Linked DNA regions of Homo sapiens: regions 1 and 2 are each reported to be linked to region 3. The links are microRNA targets in miRTarBase. Many come from high-throughput screens and were not tested one by one. Region 3 holds a microRNA gene; each other region holds the end of a gene's coding sequence.
What was found. The annotated mature microRNA hsa-miR-550b-2-5p reads AUGUGCCUGAGGGAGUAAGACA and lies in region 3 at 1,008-1,029, opposite strand. An mRNA with a match to its seed (bases 2 to 7 or 8) in the 3' UTR can be bound and repressed. Matches are read on the target gene's strand: a 7mer-m8 pairs with bases 2 to 8, a 7mer-A1 pairs with bases 2 to 7 and ends in A, and an 8mer does both.

Region 1 (3,249 bases), not on the chromosome of region 3:
TGTTGCCAATGATTACTAATGAGTCTCCCTAGCTTAGTTTTGTTGGTTATATCAATGTTGCTAAATTTAGTTTTTCTTTCCAAGGTTTAACTTCAGCCAGATTTGTCTGAGTAATAAAATTAACCCTATCCTCTTACACAGTAGGGGCTTATCTTTAGAGAATGAGTGTAAACTTTTCTTAATAACAGAGAAGATAACTTTAAACTTCAAGGATGGGTGCGGTGATTGATAGTGGAGCAGGGTGGGAGAGAAATGTTTCCAGAGAGGATGATCACATTGCCAACACTCAGGATGGATCATTGGAAGTCCTTTGGGTTTGCTGATGAAACAGAGAGCTCAGGGTGGAAATGACAACCCATTCTCTGGCAAAGTGGACTGTGGACCCCTGCACGAGCTATGAGTGTCCTGTTGCCCAACAGGGACTCTGTAGGCTATGGGATCTGGGTGTGGACCACCAGCCTTTCCTCCATCTGAGTGGACTTGTGCTGGTGAAGTATCTTCTGGAAGTCCAGCAGATAGAAAGTAACATACAGAAAGAGCAGACCGGGACGTGGGAATTGGGGGGCACAGGGAAGACGAAGGATGAAAATAAGCAGGACAGGGCTTTTTCAAATGTTCTCTTAACACCGAGGCTGAAACAGGCATAGCTCATTCCCGTAAACCACGGAGAGTTTGATGAGAAACTCTCCTCTCCCCACCTTTTGGGACTATAGATCTTCAACATCTATTTATTTATCTAGGTGCGTTTTCTCAATTTTAGTAATTCTGAGGGGAGGGGAGAGAGCAGTCACCACCAGAAGGATGGAGGTGATGTCTCAGGTTGGCTTGCCTCTGGCTGCCAGCCAAGATCAGACACAAGCATAGGTGCTGTAATGTCCAGGCAGCAGGACAGAATGGAAGAAGGTTCAGGCTCAGTCGTAGAAGATTCAGGTTCTACTCAAAGCCCAGCTCAAATGATACCACCTGTGGAAAGTCTTCTTTGGTGCTCTAGAGCAGGTAGTGTCCTTTGCCCTTAGATGGACATTAGATGGTATTTACTTAGTTGATTACCTGTTAACTCTTCCCCAATGGACAGCAGACTGGCTGCTTGAGAGCAGGGATTCTTTTCTCATTAATCAGTGTATCCTCTTTAGAATGATTTATCAGTTATCTTTTGCTGCATAAAACTTCCCACTCTTTATGTATTAAAATTACAAACATCTTTATTATTTATCACAGTTCTGTGGATTATCTGTACAATTCTTATGGTCTGTGTCAGCCTGACTGGGGTTGGATATAGTCTAGGATGGCTTTACTCGTGTCTGGAAGTTGGTAGGCTGGTTGATCTGCGGACAGGGCTCAACTGGGATGATTCATTTATGTTCCACATGGTCTCTGATCCTCCGGTAGGCTAGCCCAGGATGCTTTACTTGGTGGTCTCAACTCCATAGAGCAGCAAGTGATGTAAGTCCTGATGCATAGGTTATTACCAAACCTCTGACTGCATCACATTTACTAATGTCCCATTGGCCAAAGCAAGTTACAAGGCCAAGATCAAATTTAAAGGGGAGAGGCTGGGCGTGGTGGCTCACACTTGTAATCTCAGCACTTTGGGAGGCCGAGGCAAGTGGATCACCTGAGGTCAGGAGTTTGAGACCAGCCTGGCCAACATGGTAAAACCCCATCTCTACGAAAAACAAAAATTAGCCAGGCATAGTGGCAGGCACTTGTAATCCTAGCTACTTGGGAGGCTGAGGCAGAAGAATCGCTTGAACCCAGGAGGTGGAGGTTGCAGTGAGCCGAGATTGTGCCATTGCACTCCAGCCTGGGCAACAGAGCGAGACTTCATCTCAAAAAAACAAAACACAAAACAAAACCGACAAACAAGCAAAAAAATTTAAGGGATACAGATACAGACTTCATCTTTTCATAGGAGCAGGTGCAAAGTCACATTATCACGAGGAATTTATGGTCATTTTTGCAATATTCTACAAAATCTTGTTTGGCACACAGTAGGTAATCAAGAATGCATGTTGCAAGAATTAAGAGGTAAAGTCTATTCAAATAATATTCATGTTCACTCCTCATCCCTCCCCATTGGCACATCTACTTCCATGCCTCCTATTCATTGTTGGGATCTTTGAGTTGGGAGAAAATGTTATCTAATCGTTTGAAATGTTTGTTGCCCCTCATTTAATATGCATGGCTCCTTTCTATCTGAGAGTTTTCACACTGGTCATCTTGGCCCTACCCATCTCAACACTGGAGCCGTGCACAACTTTCTGGCTTGTGGATTATGTGCCCACCCTTAATGTTTGCTTTTTGAACAGACCCAGAAAAGGGAAAACCGGTTGTCTGCCAAAGTGTGGACAGTCTTAGCTGGCTGCATCTCCTTTGGCCAGTTGCTGCCACTTGGGGCCCTCTGGTGGCTGCTTCTTGCATAGCTCCACGCTAGGTATGAAATTCATTGTGTGAATTATCATAAGCTTGGATAGAGTCCAGAGCCTTCCAAGGGAAAGCTCACAATGTAGTGGAATGCCAGAGGTATGAAAAGAAGAAGTAATAAACAAAACAAAAATGTAAAAAATTACCATTTAGAGCTTGTAGCTTTCTTGTTTCACCATGACTTGGCCCAGAGAAAAGGCAAAGCAGTGACATAAAGATAATGCATATAAAAGAGATCTGGCCAGGCGAGGTGGCTCACGCCTGTGATCCCAGCATTTTGGGAGGCCGGGGTGGGTGGATCACCTGAGGTCGGGAGTTCAAGACCAGCCTGACCAACATGGAGAAACCCCGTCTCTACTAAAAATACAAAATTAGCCAGGCGTGCTGGACTATGCCTCTAATCCCAACTACTCGGGAGGCTGAGGCAGGAGAATCGCTTGAACCCAGGAGGCCGAAGTTGTGGTGAGCTGAGATCGCATCATTGTACTCCAGTCTGGGCAACAAGACAGAAACTCCGTCTCAAAAAAAAAAAAAAAAAAAAAAAGAGATCCATATAATTAAAAGTCGGGTGCTGGTAGGCAAGGAGCAGTGCCAGGCTCACCGAACAAAAGTGGTGGAGTTGGAAAAGGGGTGAGAGTCTTCTGACTTGAGCAGCTCGTCCAGGGCCTGGTAGGTCCCCACCACAAAGCCCACGAAGCCCAGGATGCTGATCAGGGCGTCCTTGAAGATGGTGAGGGGGCTCATGCCCTCTGAGTAGAACGTGGTGACCTCCAGGAGCGGTGGGATGATGAGGGCCAGGGCGGTGCCACTCACGGAGCCCACCAG
Region 2 (3,259 bases), not on the chromosome of region 3:
TGGATGGGAAGCCAGAGGTCTGCATAGCAGTTACAAAGAAGGCCTTATTATCTGGAAGAAAAGGGACCATAGAATGTCCATTGGTTGGGGAACAACCCAGCTTTAGTTTTTCCAGATTCTCTGCATGTGCAGGTTTATGAGACTGGAGAACTTTGATTTCTTCTTCCTCCTCCTCCTCTCTTTTCTTCTTCCTCTTCCTCCTTTTTCTCCTCCTTTCTTCCTTTATTTTTCTTTCTTCCTTTCCTCCTCTTTCTTCTCCTTTTTCCTCCTCTTTTCTTCCTTTCTTCTCTTTTTCTTCTTCTTTTTTTTTTTTTTTTAAAAGACCGTGTTTCGCTCTGTCACCCAGGCTGGAATGCAGTGGCGTACTGTTTTAGAAAAGTGAAAGAGGGCCGGGCGTGGTGGCTCATGTCTGAAATCCTAGCACTTTGGGAGGCTGAGGCGGGTGGATCACCTGAGGTTGGGAGTTCGAGACCAGCCTGGCCGACATGGCAAAACCCTGTCTCTACTAAAAATACAAAAATTAGCCGGGCATGATGGCAGATGCCTGTAATCTCAGCTCCTCAGTAGGCTAAGGCGGGAGAATCGCTTGAACCCAGAGGCAGAGGCTGCAGTGAGCCAAGATTGCAGCATTGCAGGAAAGAGAGAAAAAGGAGGGAAGGGGAAGGAAAAGGAAAGAAAGAAAAGAGGGGAAGGGAAGGGAGAGATTTAAAAAACAATAGTAAAGAGAGATTTAAAAAACAATAGTAAAGAGAGATTAAAAAAAAAAAGTAAATGGGCCAGGTGCGATGGCTTGTGCCTGTAATCCCAGCAGTTTGAGAGGCTGAAGTGGGAGGATCACTTGAAGCCAGGAGTACCAGACCAGCCTGGGAAACATAGTGAGACCCCGTCTATACTAAAAAATATTTAAATGGGCTGAGCGCGGTGGCTCAGGCCTGTAATCCCAGCACTTTGGGAGGCCGAGGCAGGCGGATTACCTCAGGTCAGGAGTTTGAGACCAGCCTGACCAACATGGCAAAACCCCATCTCTACTAAAAATACCAAAACAAAAACTAGCAGGGCATGGTGGCGCATGCCTGAAATCCCAGCTACTCAGGTGGCTGAGACAGGAGAATCACTTGAACCCAGGAGACGGAGGCTGCAGTGAGCCGAGATTGTGCCACTGCACTCCAGCCTGGGCGAGCAACAGAGTGAGGCTGTCTCTCAAAAAAAAAAAAAAAGGAACGGTAGTGTGCACCTGTGGTCCCAGCTACACAGGAGGCTGAGGCAGGAGCATCACTTGAACCCAGGAGTTCAAGGCTGCAGTGAGCTATGATGGCACCACTGCCCTCCAGACTGAGCCAAAAAGCAGACCCTGACTCTAAAACAAAAGAAAGAACAAATAACAAATGAAAATAAATACCCAAAAACCAGTCAAATGTGAAACTGGTGTCAGGGGTATGTTCTCCATGTTGAGCCCCTTCTGTGGAATATGACAGTGTCTCTATTTCGGGTAAAGGAAAGACCAAAATAACTTTCCAAGATGAAAAGCTAAGAGTGCTGATCTCATCACAGACATAGCCAGCTCTTCAGTTCAGACCACCTGGAAACCCTCCCCATGTCTTTTCAGAACAATGTCCTAAGAACCATAGGGGAAGTGGCCATAAAAACCATCTTTCCTTTGCAGACTGGGGTGGGGACTCTGGCCAATGCCATTCTGTTCTTCCATAATATCTTTCCCATCTTGACTGAGCATCAAATGAGGCCCACACACAAGATTCTCACCCACATGGCCGTGGCAAACTCCTTGGTTCTTCTTTCCACTGGAATCCCCCACACAATGGTGTCTTTTGTCCTATGGAAACCCTTGTCCAGTCTTGAGTGTAAACTCGTGTTTACAGGTCTTAAAGTCCTGACCTGGTGATCCGCCCGCGTGGACCTCCCAAAGTGCTGGAATTACAGGCGTGAGCCACCACTCCTGGCCTATGCCAGCATTCTTTAAAGTTGTGGGAAAAGGCCAAAAGCAAATAGAAAATTGGGCAAAAAAGTTCATAATTGCTTAAACATATGGAAAACCTGGAAGTAAAATTAAGCAAGTAAGTGCGAGCACTCTACATTGAAGATTATAGAAAATTCAGCCTCCCAAATATCCAAAGAATCCAGGAGTGTGCCAAGAGATCCAAGAGTAGGTCCACAATTTCTCATTCTCAGGAGAATCTGAGATTATATTTCAATCTAATGATAACTGATTATATAATCCAATTTCTGCATCATCTTGCTTTTATGTTTTGTAATAAAAATTTTAGACCAGGCCAATAAGGCATCAGCAATTTACCGTAGGGAACTAGGGAATGTTTAATTATGACAATGAAGTGTTTAATATTGTGTTTTGAAATATAAACAGTGTAGATATATTTGAATAATACTGAATTTTTAGAAAAATCTATTGGGGTGTCATATATAAAAGGATAAGTAGAGATTTGGAAATGCTTTTTTATTGGACAAGAAAATTGATCAAATCGAAATCTGGACAAACTAGAAAGTCTGGATGCTAGCAATACAATCTATAGACACATTCTAGCATCACTTCTGTGTCAGAAGTATCCGGATTGTGGTGCCTACAAATGCATGCTCCTACACACCAAGACATCCATTAAGAAAATAAAGCCATGCTTTCCAGAGCGTTTAGCACTTGTTTAACGTACTTGTGCTTCTAAATATCACAAGGCAGGATGGGATTTCTAAAGACAAGGGGATATAGGACCGAGGCAAAGACAATCAGCATGTACACTGAATCACACTCCATAATCATATTGCTAGAACACTTAGGGAGTACCTCTGAAATCACAGCCCTGCTGCCATGATGTGCAATTACAGGATAGAGGTGCCAGGTGAAGGTCCCACTGTGGCCAAGGAAAGCCTTTGTGAGACGACTACTTCAGGGTGTTCCCCATCAGAGGAGCACACCCCTGATCTTGTATTCCTCGTCAATCCAAGGTCCATGTGAAATGGTCAGATGGGGAATTTTTTCTTCCACAGACATCAGGATCTTCTGAGTTTCTTCATCAAAGCCAGATTTGTGCAGCCTGGGAAAATAGAAATAAAGTTTTTTTTTTTGTTTTTCATTTTTACACAGTATTGCCTCTCTACATTCTGATGTCTACCTCTCCTCTCCTCTTTATTCTTTCCTAGAAATCACTGGGAGAATTGTACTGAATTTGAAAAACAAGCATGAATCTTTCCTATAGGATAGGAAGCCTCTGATTTATACCATAAAGTGAAA
Region 3 (3,259 bases):
TTCCTAATATTTAAAAATCTTGACGGTATTTTAGGGTTTGTTTGGCTTTAATTTACGTCTACGTTTTTTTTTCCACTGTCAAGTAGCTATTGTTCATAAGAGCATAACATGAGTGGTCAAATAGCCTTTAATGATGCAGCAAGGATGGGGTAGATGAATTGGGCTATAGAAATATACCAATACATGGAGATTATTTCCAGAGACATCGTGTGGACTTCTATAATGTATCTTTGAGTCCGGAAGTGAAAATGTAAAATGACTTAATCTAAGACAACTAGTGGTGCTGGGTTGCTTTTGGCCTCCTGATTTTCTTGAGCTTTTTTGGGTGTGGCTTGCTCATGAGTATTTCAGTAGTCTGATTGTAACTCAGGTGCCTTGTTACTTGTGCAACATGTTTTCTTATATTGAAGGAGTGTGGGTTATCTCTTAAAACTGAATATGTTGAATAAGACCTGTATTTCTAGGACGATTTCTCTTAATTTTTAAGCAGATGTGAAGTTTTATGCTGTTAGGTTGTCTTCATCAATTAACCATTATGGAATTGGTCTCAGTTATCTCTTCTTACCAATATCAAGTGCCAAAATGTTTGAATTTGGGATACTCTAATTAATCTACTTCCTATTCCTGAATGTTATTTTGTGCCATTGAAGGCTTTTATGGGGAGTGGCCAAAGAGGAATGTTTGCCTCTTTCTAAGAAAAATGAGCCTTCTAACCACAACCCCTGCCACTCCTGAAGTAATAAGAATTTTGGTGGTTATTGTTTCTCACTTGTAATTTCATACCTTCGTGTTATATGTTTTGCTGTGTGTAAGTGTGGCCTGTGTCATGGACGTTTCTGCTTTGGGGATTTTTTGGAACTATTCTTGACTGCAAGGTGGGGAGGATTGGTGAGTTGCACAGGGCATCACCTGATCTGAGAGCAGCGTGACCTAAGAACCTGGTATTTTGATGCTTTGCTGGCTGGTGCAGTGCCTGAGGGAGTAAGAGCCCTGTTGTTGTCAGATAGTGTCTTACTCCCTCAGGCACATCTCCAGCGAGTCTCTTGCTCTCCTCCAATTTGATTGCTTTGCCTGGTGACCAGTAAGTAAGTTCTTTTGATTACCAAATATCATTAATTAGATATCAACTTTTAAACTATTTATTATTATTTGGGTTTGTAAGGAGAATTGCCCTAATATTAAACTTATTACATGTACTAAGTATTATGTACAATTGGGTATACTGGCAAATGTGTTAAAAGAGAGTGTAGGAACTGCTTTATGTAGCAGATTACTTCCTAAGTTTTACCTTATGTGAATATTCTTAAGAACTATTGTTTATTTGAAATGTTAGTCTGTGTTTTAATTTTGCATATACATGACATTTATTTGTTTAGAAATTGGACAAAACATAGGCCTTTTTGTGAACAAAGAGTTCAGAAATACCTTAGGTTCTGATTTTATTCATTTTCTTTTTTTTTTTATTTTATTCATGTTCTAAGCTGCTTGTTCACAAATAACTACAAATTTAGCTGTTCTAAGCAACACATTTATTACCTCGCAATTTCTATGGGTCAAGAGGCTGGGCACAACTTAGCTGTGTCCTCTGTAAGACTGCAGTCAAAGTGTTGGCCAGGGCTGGGTTGTTATGTAGAGACTCAACTGGGGAAAGGTCTGCCCCCAGACTTCCTTGGGTTATTGGCTGAATTTATTTCCTTGTGTCTGTTTGGTTCAGAGCAGCTTGCTTCTTCAAAGTCAGCAAAGGAAGAGAGTCTATCAAAGGTGAACTGGTGCTATGTTCTTACATAATCGTGTACATGTAATCACATACAACCCATTGCCTTTGCTGTATTTCATTGATTAGAAGCAAGTCATAGGTCCAGTTCACGTGCAAGGGGAGGGAATTATACAAAGGTTTAAACACCAGGAAGTGTAGGAATCAAGAATAGTCACATCAATTCTGTCTGCCACATGGATTATAGACTTAGATTGACAGCTGAACATGCAACTTTTTTTTAAAACTCAGTTTTTATTTACTTTTAAAAAGTTGTACTAATGCATATGGTAAGTATAGTATTAATAAACATGAATTGAGCCCCTTTTAGGGGCTGGGCATTGTAGATATTCAGGGTTTAAATGTGGGGCTTCTTTATGCACTGCTCAACTCTCCATTGAATTTGAGAGATGGATATGTGTGATCATTATACAGTGCAACAAATTCAGTAATAGAACTGTTAACAAAATGCTTCGTGAAGTATCTTTGTCTAGGCTAGTCAAAAAATGCTTCACAGAGGAGGGTACATTTGAACTGTAGTTTGAAGGATTTAGAAGTTTTATGGAGAGAGGGCACTGTAGACTAAAGAAAAATCCACAAAAGCTTGGGTTTTGATAGGGCATACTGAAAAGTTAAATATGTCTGGACTGTAGGGTGCATAGAGGAATGATGAGCACCTGAAGCTAGAAAAATAGAAAGTGGAGCCAGTTGAAGGATTTTATAGTGCTGTAGGTTTGTTTTATCTAATGAAGTTTGAAAGCAGGGGGAGTATCATGATTAGGCCATTGGGCACAATTAACATTCGTAGTTTACATGGATGGCAACCTTCTCTAGTGGTGCAGACTTCAGGCTGTATGCAGCAACCCTGATCAGGATTCAGTTCTTAAGGAGGAGAGTGTGATAGCAGGAGGATAAGTTAGGATTCTTTTAGAATATAACTGATAGAAGATGCCTACGTTGAAAAGATGGCATTGGTGAGGGAGAAGAAAAGTTAGATTTGATTGAGATTTCTAAGGTAGAACTGATAGAATTGAGAACCTGGGTACACAGTGATGTCTTTAACCAGTATTAAAGATGAAAATAACAAGTTTTAGGAAATGATAATGAGTTCCTTTTAGGCCTGTTAAATTTGAGTGGCTATAGGATTTCCATCTGGATAGAAGTATCCTTTAAGTGGCTGGAAACATGAGTCTCTAATTCAGGATATTACAAAAAACTGAGAAATCAAATTGCAGGATATAAATGATTCCAGAAAGTGGATAAGATTACTAAGGGATGAATATAGATTGACGAAGGACAAGGATGGAATCCAGAGGAGCAAGTATTTTAAGAGACAGGCAGAGGAAGAGGCCAGCAGTTAGAATTCAACCAGAGGGAAAGGAAGTTTTTTAAAACCTTTTTTTTTTAATTATAAAAATAATACCTGTTCACTAGAGAAAAACTGACATACAGAAAAGCAGTGGCTCACGCCTGTAATCCCAGCACTTTGGGAGGCCGAGGCGGGTG

Region 1: the mRNA of SLC36A2 is a reported target of hsa-miR-550b-2-5p. Seed matches in the 3' UTR shown: 7mer-A1 at 1,785-1,791.
Region 2: miRTarBase lists NLRP9 as a target of hsa-miR-550b-2-5p. The part of its 3' UTR that is shown has no 7-base or 8-base seed match.

Annotation. Positions count from the first base shown.
Region 1 is chr5:151,313,796-151,317,044 of GRCh38, forward strand. It overlaps SLC36A2 (solute carrier family 36 member 2), which reads right to left. Exons shown (of 10, transcript NM_181776.3): 10 at 1,177-3,249. The coding sequence ends at 3,022. Among named protein-coding and RNA genes, the nearest start is that of SLC36A3, 12 kb to the left of the region's middle.
Region 2 is chr19:55,705,983-55,709,241 of GRCh38, forward strand. It overlaps NLRP9 (NLR family pyrin domain containing 9), which reads right to left. Exons shown (of 9, transcript NM_176820.4): 9 at 2,456-3,062. The coding sequence ends at 2,930. It overlaps EPN1 (epsin 1), which reads left to right. Exons shown (of 11, transcript NM_001130072.2): 11 at 1-3,259. It also overlaps the pseudogene VN1R106P. Among named protein-coding and RNA genes, the nearest start is that of NLRP9, 31 kb to the right of the region's middle.
Region 3 is chr7:32,732,034-32,735,292 of GRCh38, forward strand. MIR550B2 (microRNA 550b-2) reads right to left here and starts at 1,044; the gene lies at 948-1,044. MIR550A2 (microRNA 550a-2) reads left to right here and starts at 948; the gene lies at 948-1,044.